4 separate regions of the Homo sapiens genome follow, and regions 1, 2 and 4 are each linked to region 3. Evidence: fine-mapped expression QTL. A gene starts in region 3. Each other region holds a variant in brackets. All regions are shown on one strand. Distances are between the middles of the regions.

Region 1 (5,150 bases), 25 kb after region 3:
ATTGCCATTCTAACTGGTGTGAGATGGTGTTGCATTGTGGTTTTGATTTGCATTTCTCTGATGGCCAGTGATGATGAGCGTTTTTTCATGTGTCTGTTGGCTGCATAAATGTCTTCTTTTGAGAAGTGTCTGCTCATATCCTTTGCCCACTTTTTGATGGGGTTGTTTTTTTCTTGTAAATTTGAGTTCTTCGTAGAGTCTGGATATTAGCCCTTTGTCAGATGAGTAGACTGCAAAAATTTTCTCCCATTCTGTAGGTTGCCTGTTCACTCTGATGGTAGTTTCTTTTGCTGTGCAGAAGCTCTTTAGTTTAATTAGATCCCATTTGTCTATTTTGGCTTTTGTTGCCATTGCTTTTGGTGTTTTAAACATGAAGTCCTAGCCCATGCCTATGTCCTGAATGGTACTGCCTAGGTTTTCTTCTAGGGTTTTTATGGTTTTAGGTCTAACATTTAAGTCTTTAATCCATCTTGAATTAATTTTTGTATAAGGTGTAAGGAAGGGATCCAGTTTCAGCTTTCTACATATGGCTAGCCAGTTTTCCCAGCACCATTTATTAAATAGGGAATCCTTTCCCCATGTCTTGTTTTTCTCAGGTTTGTCAAAGATCAGATAGTTGTAGATGTGTGGTATTATTTTTGAGGGCTCTGTTCTTTTCCATTGGTCTATATCTCTGTTTTGGTACCAGCACCATGCTGTTTTGGTTACTGCAGCCTTGTAGTATAGTTTGAAGTCAGGCAGCGTGATACCTCCAGCTTTGTTCTTTTGGCTTAGGATTGACTTGGCAATGCGGGCTCTTTTTTGGTGCCATATGAACTTTAAAGTAGTTTTTTCCAATTCTGTGAAGAAAGCCATTGGTAGCTTGATGGGGATGGCATTGAATCTATAAATTACCTTGGGCAGTATGGCCATTTTCATGATATTGATTCTTCCTATCCATGAGGATGGAATGTTCTTCCATTTGTTTCTGTCCTGTTTTATTTTGTTGAGCAGTGGTTTGCAGTTCTCCTTGAAGAGGTCCTTCACATCCCTTGTAAGTTGGATTCCTAGGTATTTTATTCTCTTTGAAGCAACTGTGAATGGGAGTTCACTCATGATTTGGCTCTCTGTTTGTCTGTTATTGGTGTGTAAGAATGCTTGTGATTTTTGCACATTGATTTTGTATCCTGAGACTTTGCTGAAGTTGCTTATCAGCTTAAGATTTTGGGCTGAGACGATGGGGTTTTCTAAATATACAATCATGTCATCTGCAAACAGGGACAATTTGACTTCCTCTTTTCCTAATTGAATACCCTTTATTTCTTTCTCCTGCCTGATTGCCCTGGCCAGAACTTCCAACAATATGTTGAATAGGAGTGGTGAGAGAGGGTATCCCTGTCTTGTGCCAGTTTTCAAAGGGAATGCTTCCAGTTTTTGCCCATTCAGTATGATATTAGCTGTGGGTTTGTCATAAATAGTTCTTATTATTTTGAGATACGTCCCATCAATACCTAATTTATTGAGAGTTTTTAGCATGAAGGACTGTTGAATTTTGTCAAAGGCCTTTTCTGCATCTATTGAGATAATCATGTGGTTTTTGTCTTTGGTTCTGTTTATATGCTGGATTACATTTATTGATTTGCATATGTTGAACCAGCCTTGCATCCCAGGGATGAAGCCCATTTGATCATGGTGTATAAGCCTTTTGATGTGCTGCTGGATTCGGTTTGCCAGTATTTTATTGAGGATTTTTGCATCGATGTTCATCAGGGATATTGGTCTAAAATTCTCTTTTTTTGTTGTGTCTCTGCCAGGCTTTGGTATCAGGATGATGCTGGCCTCATAAAATGAGTTAGGGAGGATTCCCTCTTTTTCTATTGATTGGAATACTTTCAGAAGGAATGGTACCAGCTCCTCCTTGTACCTTGGTAGAATTCGGCTGTGAATCCGTCTGCTCCTGGACTTTTTTTGGTTGGTAGGCTATTAATTATTGCCTCAACTTCAGAGCCTGTTATTGGTCTATTCAGGGATTCCGCTTCTTCCTGGTTTAGTCTTGGGAGGGTGTATGTGTCCAGGAATTCATCCATTTCTTCTAGATTTTCTAGTTTATTTGCGTAGAGGTATTTATAGTATTCTCTGATGGTAGTTTGTATTTCTGTGGGATCAGTGGTGATATCCCCTTTATCATTTTTTATTGCATCTATTTGATTCTTCTCTCTTTTCTTCTTTATTAGTCTTGCTAGTGGTCTATCTATTTTGTTGATCTTTTCAAAAAACCAGCTCCTGGATTCATTGATTTTTTTGAAGGGTTTTTTGTGTCTCTATCTCCTTCAGCTCCGCTCTGATCTTAGTTATTTCTTGCCTTCTGCTAGCTTTTGAATTTATTTGCTCTTGCTTCCCTAGTTCTTTTAATTGTGATGTTAGGGTGTCAATTTTAGATCTTTCCTGCTTTCTCTTGTGGGCATTTAGTGCTATAAATTTCCCTCTACACACTGCTTTGAATGTGTCCCAGAGATTCTGGTATGTTGTGTCTTTGTTCTCATTGGTTTCAAAGAACATCTTTATTTCTGTCTTCATTTCATTATGTACCCAGTAGTCATTCAGGAGCAGGTTGTTCAGTTTCCATGTAGTTGAGCGATTTTGAGTGAGTTTCTTAACCTGAGTTCTAGTCTGATTGCAGTGTGGTCTGAGAGATTGTTATAATTTCTGTTCTTTTACATTTGCTGAGGAGTGCTTTACTTCCAACTATTTTGGAAGTAAATTTTGGAATAAGTGCGATGTG[T/G]TGCTGAGAAGAATGTATATTCTGTTGATTTGGGGTGGAGAGTTCTGTAGATGTCTATTAGGTCCACTTGGTGCAGAGCTGAGTTCAATTCCTGGACATCCTTGTTAACTTTCTGTCTCATGGATTTGTCTAATGCTGACAGTGGGGTGTTAAAGTCTCCCATTATTATTGTGTGGAGTCTTAGTCTGTTTGTAGGTCTCTAAGGACTTGTTTTATGAATCTAGGTGCTCCTGTATTGGGTGCATATATATTTAGGATAGTTAGTTCTTCTTGTTGAATTGATCCCTTTACCATTATGTAATGGCCTTCTTTGTCTCTTTTGATCTTTGTTGGTTTAAAGTCTGTTTTATCAGAGACTAGGATTGCAACCCCTGCCTTTTTTTGTTTCCATTTGCTTGGTAGAATTTCCTCCATCCCTTTATTTTGAGCCTATGTGTGTCTCTGCACGCGAGATGGGTCTCCTGAATATAGCACACTGATGGGTCTTGAGTCTTTATCCAATTTGCCAGTCTGTGTCTTTTAATTGGAGCATTTAGCCCATTTACATTTAAGGTTAATATTGTTATGTGTGAATTTGATCCTGTCATTATGATGTTAGCTAGTTATTTTGCTCGTTACTTGATATAGTTTCTTCCTAGCATCAATGGTCTTTACAATTTGGCATGTTTTTGCAGTGGCTGGTACCGGCTGATCCTTTCCATGTTTAGTGCTTCCTTCAGGAGCTCTTGTAGGGCAGGCCTGGTGGTGACAAAATCTCTCAGCATTTGCTTGTCTGTAAAGGATTTTATTTCTTCTTCACTTCTGAAGCTTAGTTTGGCTGGATATGAAATTCTGGGTTGAAAATGCTTTTCTTTAAGAATGTTAAATATTGGCCCCGACTCTCTTCTGGCTTGTAGAGTTTCTGCCAAGAGATCCGCTGTTAATCTGATGGGCTTCCCTTTGTGGGTAACCCAACCTTTCTCTCTGGCAGCCCTTAACATTTTTTCCTTCATTTCAACTTTGGTGAATCTGACAGTTTTGTGTCTTGGAGTTCCTCTTCTCGAGGAGTATCTTTGTGGCGTTCTCTGTATTTCCTGAAGTTGAATGTTGGCCTGCCTTGCTAGGTTGGGGAAGTTCTACTGGACAATATCCTGCAGAGTGTTTTCCAACTTGGTTCCATTCTCCCCATCACTTTCAGGTACACCAATCAGACACAGATTTGGTCTTTTCACATAGTCCCATATTTCTTGGAGGCTTTGTTCATTTCTTTTTACTCTTTTTTCTCTAAACTTCTCTTCTCGCTTCATTTCATTCGTTTGATCTTCAATCACTGATACCCTTTCTTCCAGTTGACCGAATCAGCTACTAAAGCTTATGCATTTGTCACGTAGTTCTCATGCCATGGTTTTCAGCTCCATAAGGTCATTTAAGGACTTCTCTACACTGGTTATTCTATTTAGCCATTCGTCTAATCTTTTTTCAACGTTTTTAGCTTCTTTGCGATGGATTCGAACTTCCTCCTTTAGCTCAGAGAAGTTTGATCATCTGAAGCCTTCTTCTCTCAACTTGTCAAAATCATTCTCGGTCCAGCTTTGTTCCGTTGCTGGAGAAGAGCTGCGTTCCTTTGGAGGGGGAGAGGTGCTCTGATTTTTAGAATTTTCAGCTTTTCTGCTCTGTTTTTTCCCCATCTTTGTGGTTGTATCTACCTTTGGTCTTTGATGGTGGTGACGTAGAGATGGGGTTTTGGTGTGGATGTCCTTTCTGTTTGTTAGTTTTCCTTCTAACAGTCAGGACCCTCAGCTGCAGGTCTGTTGGAGTTTGCTGGAGGTCCACTCCAGACCCTGTTTGCCTGGGTATCAGCAGTGGAGGTTGTAGAACAGCGAATATTGCTGAACAGCAAATGTTTCTGCTGATCGTTCCTCTGGAAGCTTCGTCTCAGAGGGGTACCCGGCCATGTGAGGTGTCAGTCTGCCCCTACTGGGGGGTTCCTCCCAGTTAGGCTACTCGGGGGTCAGGGACCCACTTGGGGAGGCAGTCTGTCCGTTCTCAGATCTCAAGCTGCATGCTGGGAGAAGCACTACTCTCTTCAAAGCTGTCAGACAGGGACATTTAAGTCTGCAGAGGTTTCTGCTGCCTTTTGTTTGGCTATGCCCTGCCCCCAGAGTTGGAGTCTACAGAGGCAGGCAGGCCTCCTTGAGCTGCAGTGGGCTCCACCCAGTTCGAGCTTCCCTGCAGCTCTGTTTACCTACTTAAGCCTCAGCAATGGCGGGTGCCCCTCCCCCAGCCTCGCTGCCACCTTGCAGTTCGATCTCAGACTGCCGTGCTAGCAATGAGCGAGGCTCTGTGGGCATGGGACCCTCCGAGCCAGGTGCAGGATATAATCTCCTGGTGTGCCGTTTGCTAAGACCAT
Region 2 (5,150 bases), 48 kb before region 3:
TAATTTTTGTATTTTTTGTAGAGACAGGGTTTCACCATGTTGCCCAGGCTGGTCTCAAACTCCTGAGCTCAAGCAGTCTGCCGCGTTGGCCTCCCAAAGGGCTGGGATCATGTGTACACCATCACACCTGGCATCAAAACTATTAACTTTCAAGACTATATGCTGTATGATTCCATTTATATACCTCTGGGAGGTTGGGTTGGGAGATTGGTGCAGTTTTTATTTTCTACAACTAGCATGTATTGCTCTGTTACGATTTTTAAAATCCAATAAAGATATTGAAAGCAGTCACATAGAAAACAATAACAAAGAGGATGTACCAAAATAATAATAACAATGCTTATTTAAGATGGTAGGATTATTGGTGTTTTTTTCTTTTTTTCTCCCATTGTTTTATATGGCATATAATGTTATTATACTGTCAGCAGTAGAGCAGTCATAGGCCCCACGTCTCTGTACCTTCATCAGAACACCTCTTAAACTTGCCTAGTTCTCATCTTAGCTATTCAATCCTAACTTTCCTCTAATTAATCCTTTCTTTCTTATTCATGTCCTCCTACCCATTTTTTTGGTATCTAATTCAAGTTTTATACCAAGCTGTTTTTTCCCTCTTCCCCCTAACCCTATACCAGTTATTCTGCTTAATTCTAACCTTCTCCTCAACCCTCACTGCTCATTTGTTCCCTAAAACCTTCGCTGCTTTACACATTCAAGATAACCTAGAACCTGAAGACCTCCAGTGGCTATGTACTTGTTTTCTGGTGGCCATCCTGAGTTGTATTTCTTTTTTTTTTCCTTGTTTTTTGAGACAGAGTCTCACTCTGTCGCCCAGGCTGGAGTGCAGTGACATGATCTCGGTTCACTACAATCTTCGCCTCCCGGGCTCAAGCAGTTCTCCTGCCTCAGCCTCCCGAGTAGCTGAGATTACAGGCGCATGCCACTATGCCCAGCTAATTTTTGTATTTTTAGTAGAGACGGGGCTTCAACATGTTAGCTAGGTTGGTCTCGAACTCCTGGCCTCAAGTGATTGCCCACCTTGGCCTCCCAGCGTGTTGGGACTACAGGCGTGAGCCACTGCACCCGGCCTCTTGTTTGTTTTGTTTTCTGTTTTCTTTTTGTTTCTGAGTTGCATTTTTTCTGGAAAGCAACAAATGGCACTAAGGTGGATTCCAGGTTCTCAAGCTGAGCGTAAACAATACTACCCAATGCTCTGAAGACTTTTGCCATGAAGTTTTTAAGCCTCCTTGGATGCTGGGATCTTAGTAGCTGAGAAAACTCTGGCAGAGTTCTTCCTGGTTCTCCCTCCTTTTCCTTTCTGAGTTAACCTGGGAGCCAGAGCAGAGCAGCCTCTGGTTTTTGCTGCTATTTTTTAGTACTAAAATGGCCTTAAAGAACTCATCAACCTTTTAAAACATGAGTCAGGTTCTGTTACTTTGCCTATAACTCTTCAGTGACTTTCTGTTAAACTTAGAGAAAAAGGTTAAGTCATCCTTTTGGTTCCTACGGGCGCTGCACGGTTTGGCCCTTCCTGCTTTCACTCTCACAGACAGCCACGCCACTCCTCACCCATTATATTGCAGCCGCCCTAACCTGTTTTCTGTTCCTCAGTGTGCCAAGCTTTGTATTACCCTAAGGCCTGCATTCATATTGTGCTTTCTGCCTGGAATGCTTTCCTCAGTTCTTTAAAAACTTAGCCCTTCATCCTGTAGGTCTCAGCAAGCACCATCTCAGTGAGACTTGCCCTGACTACTTTATCTACAAAGGTTCTTCCTTGTTCTCTCTCAGTATCCGGTTTGCTTTCCACATAACATTTATTTCAGAGTTGTCTGTTGACTTGTTTATCGTCTGTCTTCTCCATGGACTATATGTGTAATTGCCAAGAAAGCAGGGACTTATTTCTGTTTGGCTCACTAATCACTGTATACACAGCATGTAAACATTCCATAAGTATCTGTTAAATGGAATGGATGAAATCATAGGGTAGAAGGAACCCTAAAGCCACCTAATGCATCCTCCCAAATCCCTTCCACAGCATCCCTAATGGATTCAGCATAGAAACTTCTGGTTATAGCAAGTTCTGTTTGGGTGTGTCGAAATGTTAGTTAATTCTAATGCATATTGAGCAGAAATCTTTCTGTCTGAAACTTCCACTTTCTTGTCATGTGGAATTAAACAAAATACACCTGATCCATTTTTACATCACTTTAAAATATATGAATATGACTATTTCATCCTCTCTGCACTTCACATGCATTCTCTTTGCCCAGAGAAACTTGTCCAACTGCATCAATTACTTTTCTCCCTCCGACACCCCCTCACCAGTATTTTGCTTTTTCTTTTTTGAGACAGAGTCTCACTCTTTTGCCCAGGCTGGAGTGCAGTGGCACGATCTCAGCTCACTGCAACCTCTGCCTCCTGGGTTCAAGCGATTCTCCTGCCTCAGCCTCCCGAGTAGCTGGAATTACAGGCACATGCCACCACACCTGGCTAATTTTTGTATTTTTAGTAGAGATGGGGTTTCGCCAGTATTTTTTGATGAATGTATGCTTAATTTGAGGCATCCCAAAGAAAATTCAATATGAAAAATGCCGTGGGATAATTATCTCCTTTATTTTGGATATGACCATTTTATATATGAAATGGAAAACTCTAAATCTTTTTCTCTGTTTTTTCAATAAGTATGTTATGCTAATAATATATATCAAGTGTGCAATCAACCAAAACACTGTTTTCATTTTTCATGCGTGAGCTCATCTCCCCTATCTGGTGCATCTAATTGCCTAAACTTAACTATGGATTCTATATTTCATGTTAATTTTGATTCATTATTCTAGGTTATCCAGATCTCTTTGAATCTTGTTCCTGTCAACTGACTTATTAGTGCCATCTCCTAATTCTGTGTCAACTTGACAAGCCTGCTGTCTTTCCCTTCATCCAAGTTGCCAATAAAAATGCTCAACAAGGCAGAGTGCTTTAGCAAGACCTGGAGAGATCTCCTACAGGTAAACACGTTGCCATGGTCTTTACACCTTGGGTATGATCATTCACCCAAGCATGGAGTCACATAGTGTCCACGTTGTTCCTCTTGTTCAAAGGCCTTGCTGCAGTTCATGCATGCGGAATCTATAGCTGTCCCATGACTTACCAGCCTAGCAGAAAGCAGCACATCAGAAAAGGAAGTGAGTTTAACTTGGCATG[T/G]CATTTTCTTTCTTTCTTTTCTTTTTTTTTTTTGAGACAGAATCTCGCTCTGTCACCCAGGCTGGAGTGCAATGGCACCATCTCGGCTCACTGCAACCTCTGCCTCCTGGGTTCAAGCGATTCTCCCGCCTCAGCCTCCTGAGTAGCTGGGATTACAAGCGTGCGTCACCACTCCCGGTCAATTTTTGTATTTTTAGTAGAGATGGGGTTTCACTGTGTTGGCCAGGCTGGTCTCGAACTCCTGACCTCAGGTGATTCGCCCGCCTCGGCCTCCCAAAGTGCTGGGATTACAGGCGTGAGCCACCGCGCCTAGCATGGCATGGCATTTTCTTGGTGAGCAGCACAGGAAGCAGCCCAGAGGCCTCAGTGGGGTGGCTCTTCAGAACAGAGGCCCTCGCCTCACACTAGGCTAGTGATTCAGTCACACCACCATCTCCTACGTCAATTTGTCTCACAACACTGTCATGTCTCACTTCTTATAGAATCTGTCGCCTCCTTTCTCTCCCTCTTGGTGCTCTCTCAAGGTTTACATGCATTTGGATGAAAGCTAGGAAGGTTCTAAGTTGTAAGTGAGGGATTTGCTGCGTCTCTCAAGGAGAAGAGGAAGTTACCTCTTTTGATGAAGATCCAAGGCATCCTCCACTGTCACGTGGTGCAGAAGCAGACATCCCCTTCAAAAGATCTAGCTCTTCCCAGCTCTTCTGTTCCTCTTTAGTACTTTCTCACCCTCCCTTGCAGACTGAACTTCCACCTAACTCTAAGCGGAAGCCCACACACCTGTTTCCACACACAGTAAGACAGGACTTCTCCTGTCTGCTGTACCACAGAGACAGGCCTTGCCTCAGTGTGGTGGGGCTTGCTGCCTCCCCTGGTGTCTGAAGGGTTTCTTCCTGCAAGCACTCAGCCTTCTTCCTTCTCTGGGTCAGCAGTTTCTTCGGGAGCTGCAAGCACTGCTGGCACGGTGGATCCGAGAGACCCACTTGAGCCTCAGAGCAGAGCTGGATGGGGCAGAAGCTGGTCAATTCTTTTTTCTCTGTAGTTTGTTGGCTTTTATTTCTGCCTTCTCACTCTTATGTGCTAATTGTCACTGTTTCTTCTCTCTGTTTCTCTTCTTCTCCTGCTTTCCCCACTATCCTCCCTGCTCGACCCTCCACATTTCTCCTTGAGTTCAGGGCAGACAGAAACAGCATTAATGATCAGCTGCAGAGGAGGAGGTGTCAAGGGTTTCTGTATTCCCACCCAGAGCTCTGCATGCATGTTTAAGCAATCCCTTTCCATCTTTACACTCTTTCATGATGACACTGTTTCTGACACTTCAGTGATCACCTATTTCTGATGGAAGAGCTGGAGCATTGCTAAGTGGCAGGTGGGGAAATTCTACTCAGTTCACTTGACTGGTTTTGCTCTTAAGTTGTAATCCTACCCAAGTGTACACATGCACAGTAAAAAATACCAAACCTGTAGCACTCAGATAACTTACTCCATCTGAACTATGTTAACAGACATGAAGAGTGCACACCTTGGATAGGTACAGGACAAGCCACAGTCCAGTTCATTAATTATGCTGTCAATTTGGCTATAGTCTGAATGATGTTTCCCATAATTCACATATTGAAGTCCCAGCCCCCAGTGTGTTGGTATTTGAAGATGGGGCCTTTGGGAGATAATTAGGTTTAGATGAGGTCATGAGGATGGGTCATGATGGTATTAGTGCCCTTCTAAGAAGAGACCAGAGAGTTTGCCTTCTTTGTCATGCCATGTGACTACACAGTGAGAAGGTGGCTTGTCTACAAGCCAGAAAGAGAGTCCTCACCAAAATCCACATCATCTGGCACTTTGACTGGGACTTCCAGCCTACAGAACTGTGAGAAAATGAGTATCTGTTATTTCAGCCACCCCATCGGTGGTATTTTGTTATGGCAGCCCAAGCAGACTAATACAGATTCCAAACT
Region 3 (5,150 bases):
GACTTCCCAGCCTCCAAAACTAAATTTCTGTTGTTTATAAGCCCCCCTCCCCCACCCGCCCCAGTTTATGGTACTTTTGCTACAACACGCCAAACAGTCTAAGACATACTACTTTCTGAGAAAAGTGAAAGAAATAGTGTGGAGATTTCAAAGGTATTTTTCAGGTAGAAGGCATGACTGGCAGAGATCAACTCAAATGGCTATGCACTGGGGCCATAAGCTTAAGCATCTTACTATAAATATATTCTCTCTGGGTTTTTTCAAGTACATATCATCCACCCTCCGAAAAACACCTGTGAGGACTGCCCTCTTGCTCTCTCTTTTAATGGGTAGAGGGTTAGCTACTTTTGAATAGTAGCTCATATTCTTGTTGGCTGATGAGTACAAAGCTTGGCACTGACATACTAACATTAGAATCATGCTTTCAAAACACCAAAAATTCCTCGATGGTATTGACTTTCTTTAAAAATATCACTGGAATTGTCAAATTTACCACTGCAGTATTATTTGAATGAAAACGATTAGGTTGAACTGTATAAAATGGTCCATACTTGAGCACTTTTTATACCAAAAAAACAGCAGTTTCAAATAATGCTACCTTATACAAAACCTACCTCAGGAATAGCCAACATAACAAGCAGCTTCTTTCTCTTTTCACATTCAAAAACCCTATATGCTTGGAGGCTGAGATAGCTTCCATCCATACTAAGTGGAATCTTTTTTATTTTTCATGAATGCAAACTCAGTAAGACAGACAATAGCCCTTCCCCCAAACCCTGCCATATTAATGGCCATTATTTGTAGGGCAGCTAGTTTGGGTGGGGGAAATAGATCAAGCAGACAAAGCTAACTGCTAAATCCGAGAACTCATTTACCCATGACATTAATCTCATATGGCACCATTTTCTATCAGGATTGTTCAGTCCTTATATTTACTAAAAAAAAATTGGGACAAAGTGTAAATTTGCTAACCAATGTAATTGATCAATAGATCGTTATTTAAATAATTTATTTCAATTCCCCTCTATATTTGTAAGGACAAACAGCAGACTTCTAAAGCTTTTTCCAGTAACTTCCTGATTTATGTATTCTTCACATAAAAACTGTGCTTCTACACAAAATTAGTGCTTCAGATGAGTCAGAATTTAGAAGAAGTAAATGTATAACCCAGTTTAGGTAATTGTTTAAATGGGTTAAGGAAAAGCTTCCAGCTTCCCCTTTTTGAGCCTTGATTACTACTTTCCTTCCCCCAGGGCTTCTAGCCTGCTTACCAAAAAAAGAGACAGAATTTGCAATTCTATGAATTATTGCACAATGTAAACCCAGTTTCCTCCTATATACATAGCAAACATAGAATTCAAATACACAAAGCACATACACTTGAGAATCACACTCAGACAACTTAACCAAACAACAAAAACACACCAGCCCCCAAAGGATCCCACCAGTGCACCTATCCATCAACACCCGCCAAGCCAGTCTGGCAGGCATCCGTCACCCAGCAAGTGGTCCCAGTAACTTCCCCTGCAGGCCCTAGGTCTGACTCTTAACCTCACACTATCATATGTACCTAGAGACATGAGCACAATTCAACTCAATCAATGTTTATTAAGCAACCTCTTTGTGCTGAATGCTGTATTCTTTTCTTTTAATTCTTCAGCCATAGTCCTGGTCACACCAAATGCAGCTTGGTTTAGTTCCCCAATCATCCCAGCCATTCGGGTCCCTGCACTGGCTCCATCCAGTCTCTCTAAAGCAAGAGTTTTGTTTGTTTGTTTGTTTTTTTAGATGGAATCTCACTCTGTCACCCAGGCTGGAGTGCAGTGGCTCAATCTTGGCTCACTGCAACCTCCACCTCCCAGGTTCAAGCGATTCTCCCACCTCAGCCTCCCAAGTAGCTAGGGCCACAGGTATGTGCCACCATGCCCAGCTATAAAGCAAGAGTTCTTAACTGGGTCCACATGTAGGATTAAAGGGTCCATAAACTAGGGTGAAAAATAATCTTACATCTTTATTTTCATTTTTGCCTCTAATGGAAATTTAGTATTTTCTTCAGTTATGTATGTAGACAACCACAGATATCTTCATATCACATTACAACTACTTAAGATATATTGAAATGTTATTTATACTCATCATTACTTTGAAGTTTGGTGGTTAAAAGACCTACCTGTAGATTTTGTTATGTAATGCATAAATAAGAAGCAAATAAATTACTGCATTATAATTTATTTAAAATATTTTGATACCTGTATTTCAATGTGACTGATTTCCTCTGTAATTCTATGCATTTTATTTTATGCATTTTAAACATTATTCTGAGATGGAGTCTATTCTCTTTACCAGATGTTAATGAAAACTGTAGCATAAAAAGTACCTGCTATCTGGTTTGAAACTATTCCATTACCTGCTCAACTCATCTGACTCTCCCTTCTACCTCCAAATTTTCTCTTCTTCCATCCTATTCAAACATAGATAAATGCCCCTAGATCAGGCAAGCCCCTCTGCATGGCCCTCAGTAGAGCCAAGTGAATCTTCCTGTTCATTTCTCAGTCTCTCAGTAGTCAATTTCCACTTCCACTCGCAGGTGAAATCTAGAACCTTCTTTTAGCATAGTCTAAAACTACTAAGTACTTTCATAACCTTTCTTTCCATCCAGTCATATCTGCAAGGCATAGTTATCCCATCAAGCCTTAATATCAGGCAAACCTTAAGGTCTCCTCTCAGTTTGGGACACAAAGCTTTTTTACTGTCTCTTGGGATGATCGGCCCAGGAAGATGAGTAAAGCCAGGGCCAAGCAAAACTGACAGATCTGGCAACACACACAAATGTTAAAACCAATGGAATCTTGTGCATGGGACTCAACCAAGCATTGTGACTCCCTGGAACTCAAGGATGTCTAGGTAAGCCAAGAACTGTCATTAGTAAGTCAAAAATTATTGCTAACATCAGAAATATATGGCATAGTTGTTCCTGTAGAGACCAAATTGTCCTGTTCCATCACTCAGCACCCTGAGTTGATGAACTCCTGTGACAAGAGAAACATAAAGGATTATGAAACTTACTCAGAAGGAGAAAGAAAGATGCCACATATGAGATGCCTGCCATTTGGGCCAGCACAGTCCTTTTTCGTCCCAATAGTGTCACTAACATTCAGAGGTTGAGTGACAAATGCTGTGCTCTCACTGCAAAGTAAAGAGGAAGCAAAAGTGTGGTTTTCAGCCCACTGAGAAATAGAGATGTCTTGTGAAAAGCAAAACTGGTTACATTATGTAGCTCTTTACTAATCACTCAAATTTGGGAGTAAAAAAGTTATCTTTGTGGTTAAGTAAACAGATATCGATAAAACTAAGAAAAGATGGGTCTCAACCTGGCTCACAGTATGTGTCATTTGGTAATGATGAGAGAATTTAGGTAAACTGAATAAATAAAAAAGGCACCAGCAATGTTGTCTTCTTGGCCCTTCCTTCTCCTCCTCTCTTGAGAGAGGAAATGACTGAGAAATGGGAGAAGGCCCCTGAAAAACATGAACTTGGGGCGACATGAGGTGGTGCTGAAGGTTACAGGCTCTAGAGTCAGGCTGCCTGGGTTTGCATGCAGATTCTAGTTTTAGTAACTGTGCAATCTTAGAAAACTTAATTAACTTTTCCTAACCCTCATTGCTAAAATGAGGATACTAATAGTAGGTACCCTGTAAGATTACTGTGAATGCCAAATGAGCTAATTTTTTAATTATTTTTTTATTTCTTTTTTTTTGTATTTTACTTTTTTTTATTATTATTATACTTTAAGTTCTAGGGTACATGTGCACAACGTGCAAATTTGTTACATATGTATACATGTGCCATGTTGGTGTGCTGCACCCATTAACTCGTCATTTACATTAGGTATATCTCCTAATGCTTTCCCTCCCCCTTCCCCCGACCCTATGACAGGCCCCGGTGTGTGATGTTCCCCTTCCTGTGTCCAAGTGTTCTCACTGTTCAATTCCCACCTATGAGTGAGAACATGCAGTGTTTGGTTTTTTGTTCTTGAGATAGTTTGCTGAGAATGATAGTTTCAAGCTAATTTATTTAAAGCACTTAGAACAATATCTGGTACATAGTAACTGCTCAATGAATATTAGCTACCATCATCACCATCATGAGACATTTAAGTAAATCTTCATCTGCCCTGTGAAACTGCCTTTGCAAAAATTGTAACAGTGAGAAAGTTATGACAGTGAAAGGGATCTGACCTCACCATCTCCATCTTGCTTCTAACTTCCAAGCTGCCCTTGTTAATTCCTGGTTGTAGGCCAAACTAACTTTGGGAGGAATTTAGCTTAGTTTAATTTTGAAACAAAGAGGATAACAGCCCTTTCTGGAAACAAACCCCCTTCTTGCCTGGGGAGCAGACTTCCCTAGTAAGACTAACAAATTAGCCACAACATTAGAAATTATGGTTTAGGAGTCATGCAGCCAGAGGCCACACAATTCCAACCTCCCCAACTGTTCCTAGGGATAACATCACTATTGTAAAACCTAAATTGGTGCTCAAGGTATTTTTCAGACCCTGCATCCTGATGCACCAGCTGACACCATCCAGGCTGGTGATCTGGTTCCACCAGTTCTTTGATCCCACTTAGGAACGGAAGACTGCAAGAACCCCCTTTGATCCCCTGTGATTTCATCTCCTACCTGACCAATCAGCACTCCCCACTCCCTGGCCTGCCAAATTATCCTTACTAACTCCAGTCTCTGAATTTCCGGGGAGACTGATTTGAGTAATAAAACTCTGGTTTCCCATTTAGCTGGTTCTGTGTGAATTAAACTCTTTCTCTATTGCAATTCTCCTGTCTTGATAAGTCTGTTCTATCTGGGCAGCAGGCAAGGAGAAACCTGTTGGGCAGTTACGCTAATGGGCAGTTACACCGATGTGAACCCAGGTATCAAGGATGGCAGAGGAGTATCTAAATGCAACAGTTGGCCCTGAACCTAGACTAATACTACGCTAGTGCTAGAGTTCTCAGGAAGCTTCCACTTAAATCAGATAATCACAATGCAATGTGTCAACAATCAGTGGGGCACCTATAGGGGGTGGGGAAAATTGGTAGGCAGGAGGGAAGGTCAAGATGGATTGGGCTGGGCCAGGTGAGTCAATGAGTCAT
Region 4 (5,150 bases), 22 kb before region 3:
TATACTTTTTACAGTTCTTATCTATTTATTCTACTGCAAAAACTGCCGATTCTACAGAGCCTATTAATTCCACTGGGAAAACATGTACGGAATGTGCTCATGAGTATGGGACTTCCTGTAATTGTTGGAAAGAAGAAAAAGGCTGATAGAAAAAACATTTTGGCCTGGCACTCAGGAGAAAACTTCTGCTGAGGAATGAACAGGGAAAAACAATGATGGACCACCTCAAGGAACAAATCGGATAGCTTCGACTTCCCCTCTGGAAGCCCTGCTGCGCTGGGATGCACCTATCCCTACTTCTTAGATGTTCCCATATGTTCTCAACAGCATTCTGTCCCTCCTAAGCAGTGTCACTAAAGCTAGCTGGTCTCTTAGGATTGTTACCTTTATTGATGATTTTCCCTTTGTGCTTCCTGGTGTCTGGCACCAAGACCACACCCCTACTTCTCCAATGGCCCTTTCCCTCAGTAAGCTTAGCTTATTGCTCACCTCCCACCTTCTCCCTGAACCCCAGCAGAAAGACATGGACCTGTCAGATGCTCCCGATATTTAAGTGTCTATGCCAAAATCTCATGTGGACCTTGTTTGTTCAAATGAGTTACTATTGAGAGAGACAGCAAAGTCATCTTCTTTAGGGAACCTGAAAATTGTCTTCAGTCTGAAAATTGTCTTCAGAAGGAGCAAAAGATAGGTGAGAGGGAGAGGATAAGAGGAGAGCCATGTATTCTCCTGACCATGAGCTCGCGGTAGATAAACCCCTGGTTACCTGAAGGCAGCACCGTGAGCACCATCCGCTGTGACTCATCGGATGCTTGATTAATCCACTTGCTTGGGTGTCCATGGAGCTGCCACTCTGCCACCCTACACCAGTACATTCCTGCATCCTCCATCTCCACCTGATGAAGCTTCAGGACAAAGTCTGTAGAGGATGAACGGTAACAGTGCAGGTGCCTCCTGAGCCCCTCTTCCCCATACTCCAGCAAGCCATCATGTTGCAAGTGCACCAGCAATTTACTTCCAGAGTTTTCTCTGTTCCAGTACCACATCACAGAGTACAGAGTGGCTGAGCTGCCTACACTCTCCAGGCTGCAGCGGATGGCCACTTCTCTGTGCTCAGTCACATTTTCGGTCCAGTACACTTTGGAGACACGTACCTTACTTCCTAGAAAATAAAATGGCAGTAAATTAGAGAATGCAGACTTTCAGATTTGGATACCACCTCTGAAAAATCTAGTTCTCACTGGGAAGATCTTATATTCTTTAGACATCAGTGCATTCATTTTATTTTTTTTATTATTTTTATTTTTTGAGACAGAGTCTTGCTCTGTCACCCAGGCCAGAGTGCAGTGGCATGATCTCAGCTCACTGCAACCACTGCCTCCTGGGTTCAAGCAATTCTCCTGCCTCAGCCTCCCAAGTGGCTGGGATTACAGGCGTGTGCCACCATGCCCAGCTGATTTTTGTATTTTTAGTAGAGACGGGGTTTCACCATGTTGGCCAGATTGCTCTTGAGCTCCTGGCTTCAAGTGATCTGCCCACCTCAGCCTCCCAAAGTGTTGGGATTACAGGCATGAGCCACCACGTCCAGCCACATTCATTTTAATTCTTGTCCTTGGTCCCTGTTTTTCTCTCACATTTGCCAGGACATTCTCTGCTAGGAATCAAACCAGCCTCTTTCCTTCTTTAGCCCAACTGCTTGCCTGCTGGACCCTGCCATTGAAAACTACACAGCTTCTGCAGGGCCCTCTGCCTGCTGCTTTTACTTACCCTTGATTCACTCCTCCTCTACTTCCCAAAGTGGTCATTCACAACTTTTAGCAGCTCCCTCAAGCCATGTATTCCACCAGTACCCCTCATTCTTAGCAAATTACTCTCCTCCCATACACCCAGATATTATCTTGGGTGTAAACGCAGAGAGAGAGGACGCCATCCAAGAGACTGAACATTTTGATGCAAGTGTTAGAAGGCCATCCATGGGAGCTATTTAGATGATTGGATTAGACTGAGTTTTAAAGAGATTTTGACATTTACTTTTTTTCCCCTTGCTAACCAGCAGGTGAGGATTTAGAATAACAGCCAAAGTAGTTACAAACAAAATAAAGAAATTATAGTGTGCATTACATTTTCAATTCCACTACAAACACATTTATTTATTTATTTATTTATTTATTTATTTTTATTTTATTTATTTTTTGAGACGGAGTCTCGCTCTGTCGCCCAGGCTAGAGTGCAGTGGCACAATCT[T/C]GGCTCACCGCAACCTCTGCCTCCCGGGTTCAAGCGATTATCCTGCCTCAGCCTCCCGAGCAGTTGGGATTACAGGCATGGGCCACCATGCCTGGCTAACTTTTTTATTTTTAGTAGAGACAGGGTTTCACCATGTTGGCCAGGCTGGTCTCGAACTCCTGACCTCAGGTGATCCGCCCACCTTGGCCTCCCAAAGTGCTGGGATTATAGGCATGAGCCACTGTGCCTGACTCAAACACATTTATTAATCTGTCTTTAAGAGAATAATTCTGTCTGATCTTGGACTCTTTCTTAGTTACCATTTTTACTCTCCCCTTTCCTTCATGGAGTAGCACGTGGAATATTAGCACATGGAATACTGTTGCTGTTTCCTTGTCTCAAATTACTTCCTACTTTATTGTGATCTGGCTTCCAATCCCATCACTTTACTTGGCCAGGGCCCAATTTCCCAGTTCAAGGGACCCTCTAGTCCTTTTCTGTCCTCTATGTGGTTTTTGTTACTGGAGTCCAATTTCTCCTTGAAATTGACTTCTTTTCTTCCAACCTCAGAGAAAATATCCCCCTTACAACTCTGACCAGTCATTCTCAGCATCTTTCTGGGGCCTCTTGGTTAACTTGTTCCCTAAATGACGTGCACAACCGGAAGTCCACAGCCACACCAAGCCCACAGGTATGTTCTGCTTGACACTTGCAGTATTTTAAGAGAACTGGGCTGGGCGCAGTGGCTCACGCCTGTAATCCCAGCACTTTGGGAGGCCAAGGCAGGTGGATCACCTGAGGTCAGGAGTTCAAGACCAGCCTGAGCAACATGGTAAAACCCTGTCTCTACTAAAATTACAAAAATTAGCCAGGCATGGTGGCACACACCTGTAGTCCCAGCTACTCTGGAGGCTGAGGCAGGAGAATTGCTTGAACCCAGGAGGAGGAGGTTGCAGTGAGCTAAGATCATACCACTGACTCCAGCCTGAGCAACAGAGCAAGACTCCGTCTAAAAAAAAAGAAAAAGAAGAAGTGAATTAGTTGTGGACATTCTCAAACTGGGAGATGTCACCAAAAAAGATTTTAGGCATCTCTAGATATGCAAAAAGATCTGACAACACGGAGCCCACATTTCTACATGGGAAGCACTTGAGCTAAGCAGTGGCTGCCTCCTGAAGACGGCCATGCACATGTGGTCAAGAGTTTGGTGTGGATGACTGGGAGACAGAATGCCAATCACACAGATGGGAAATGCAGAAGTGCAAATGAGCATGGTGAGATGGCAGAGATGCTAAGTGCAATTTAGGGCATGCTGAGTATGGGGGCATCCAAGTAGAAATGTACAGCAGGCAGTTGGGTATGAAGGCTTGGAGCTCAGGAGATCAGGGCTAAGCACAAAATCTCAGAGTTATCATCTAGAAGGTGGTAGTTGAAACCAGGGCAGTGTTTAAGAAATTCTGAGGAAAGCAGAGAATAAGAAGCAAAACAGGCCCAGGATCTATCCCTGAGGAACACACACATTTAGCAGGGAGAAGAAGGGGCTTGAAGAACATACAGAAGGGAAGCCAGAGGGCAGGAAGAGACCCCAAACCAAGCTGCTGTTCTGCCCTTGTTGTCCCACCAGACTGGGAGCTCCTTAAGGGCCAGGGCTGTGCCTTCTTTATCTTTGTATTCCACTGCCTAACACATAGTAATGCTCAATTATCATCTAATTTTTTTTTAGCGTTACCTTGAAAATAGTATTTCAAGCACCAAATTAGATCAACTTCTCTGCATTGTGCTGTAGGATCTTGGCCAGTTCCTGAACCTTGGCTGTGACATTCATTTAATTTTAATCAACACTGGAAGTGACCTAACCTATGCTGAGAGACCTAATCAACCCTGCCCACATTTAGACAGTGGCACTCTTAGACCAGTGCGGAACTTCCATTACATTTTTAAAGATCTCCTGAGGAAGAGGAGACTCCCTCAGTAAGCCATTCCAACAGTTAACTACTCTTATTTGCCTTATGTTTAGGCAGCTAAATGTTGAGAAGCAATTTCTCCACACATCCCCATAGAGTTGTACAGTTTCTGTTCACAGTGGGAGAAATATGCTTCGTATTACTCTTTCTCTGCCAAATTACAGTAGAGCCCCACTGGAATGACACAGCTTGTTATGATAGAGATCTGGAGATACGATACCCTGGGTAGCTGCACAGACCAGGCTGCCAGGTTGAGAAGCAAACCAATCAAAGGGATATTGCTCCTACCTCAGCTCCCCAAAACCTCAGATTGGATTGCCTTAAGTGACCTCCCCTCCTTTGGTGGACTACTCGGTCTTGCAGTCATGTGTAGGTAGATACTGTTCCTATGACTTTAGGTCATATTTTTACTTCCACATAATCACTCCATAGAACAGCTGCCCAAGAGAAAACAGCCGTCAGACAGACAGACATTGTGAGGATACACTCGCAAGGTTTACCTGTGGGCTTGAGTTTCAATTCTGTTAGTCCTGACTTCTTTTCTCCAAGCTTGTGCCAAGTGCCATTTGTAGACAGGAGCCATTCCTCCACAGCACAGTGATATTTGCCCCGATCGCTGTCTTCCACATTCAGAATGTGCAGCTGAAATAAGTCTTGGGAAACCTTCTCAGTATGAAATTTTTGTTTTCTCTGTGGGGTGTGAAACTCATCCCCAGTTTTTATAACATTGGTTTGGTCCATCTCCAGGATCTTTAGCCAAGAGGCATTAGTGGAAACAGGAGAAAAATACCAAATAATGGCTAACTGAAGGTTTCCATTGGACCGGGACAAGATGCTACATTCTATATCAGTGTTGGAGTTGATGGAGAGCTCTTGGACTTGACTCCTTGAATTCACTTTTAGCTTGCTCTCTAAATTTAAAAAAATGAAACAGTTACTTTGCTATGAAATAGAAAGTTAAGG

What was found. PIP is the estimated chance that this variant, and not a neighbour inherited with it, causes the effect. A credible set is the group of variants that fine-mapping cannot tell apart.
Region 1: its variant is the best candidate, but not a certain one, in a credible set for the expression of CD101 in whole blood (TOPMed, PIP 0.59).
Region 2: its variant is the best candidate, but not a certain one, in a credible set for the expression of CD101 in whole blood (INTERVAL, PIP 0.73).
Region 4: its variant is the best candidate, but not a certain one, in a credible set for the expression of CD101 in thyroid (GTEx, PIP 0.90).

Annotation. Positions count from the first base shown.
Region 1 is chr1:116,975,044-116,980,193 of GRCh38, reverse strand. All of the region lies in intron 7 of PTGFRN (prostaglandin F2 receptor inhibitor), which reads right to left. Among named protein-coding and RNA genes, the nearest start is that of CD101, 24 kb to the left of the region's middle. The variant T/G (reference allele first, on the strand shown) is at 2,762.
Region 2 is chr1:117,048,019-117,053,168 of GRCh38, reverse strand. It overlaps CD101-AS1 (CD101 antisense RNA 1), which reads left to right. Exons shown (of 4, transcript NR_110786.1): 2 at 2,835-3,002. Among named protein-coding and RNA genes, the nearest start is that of CD101-AS1, 8.9 kb to the left of the region's middle. RefSeq lists an enhancer at 1,095-1,184. The variant T/G (reference allele first, on the strand shown) is at 3,199.
Region 3 is chr1:116,999,777-117,004,926 of GRCh38, reverse strand. It overlaps CD101 (CD101 molecule), which reads right to left and starts at 3,167. Exons shown (of 10, transcript NM_001256106.3): 1 at 3,067-3,167. The coding sequence starts at 3,109.
Region 4 is chr1:117,021,521-117,026,670 of GRCh38, reverse strand. CD101 (CD101 molecule) reads right to left here. Exons shown (of 10, transcript NM_001256106.3): 7 at 4,688-5,098; 8 at 767-1,162. It overlaps CD101-AS1 (CD101 antisense RNA 1), which reads left to right. Exons shown (of 4, transcript NR_110786.1): 4 at 1-1,189. It overlaps LOC124904386 (a long non-coding RNA gene), which reads left to right and starts at 4,670. Exons shown (of 2, transcript XR_007066499.1): 1 at 4,670-5,150. The variant T/C (reference allele first, on the strand shown) is at 2,245.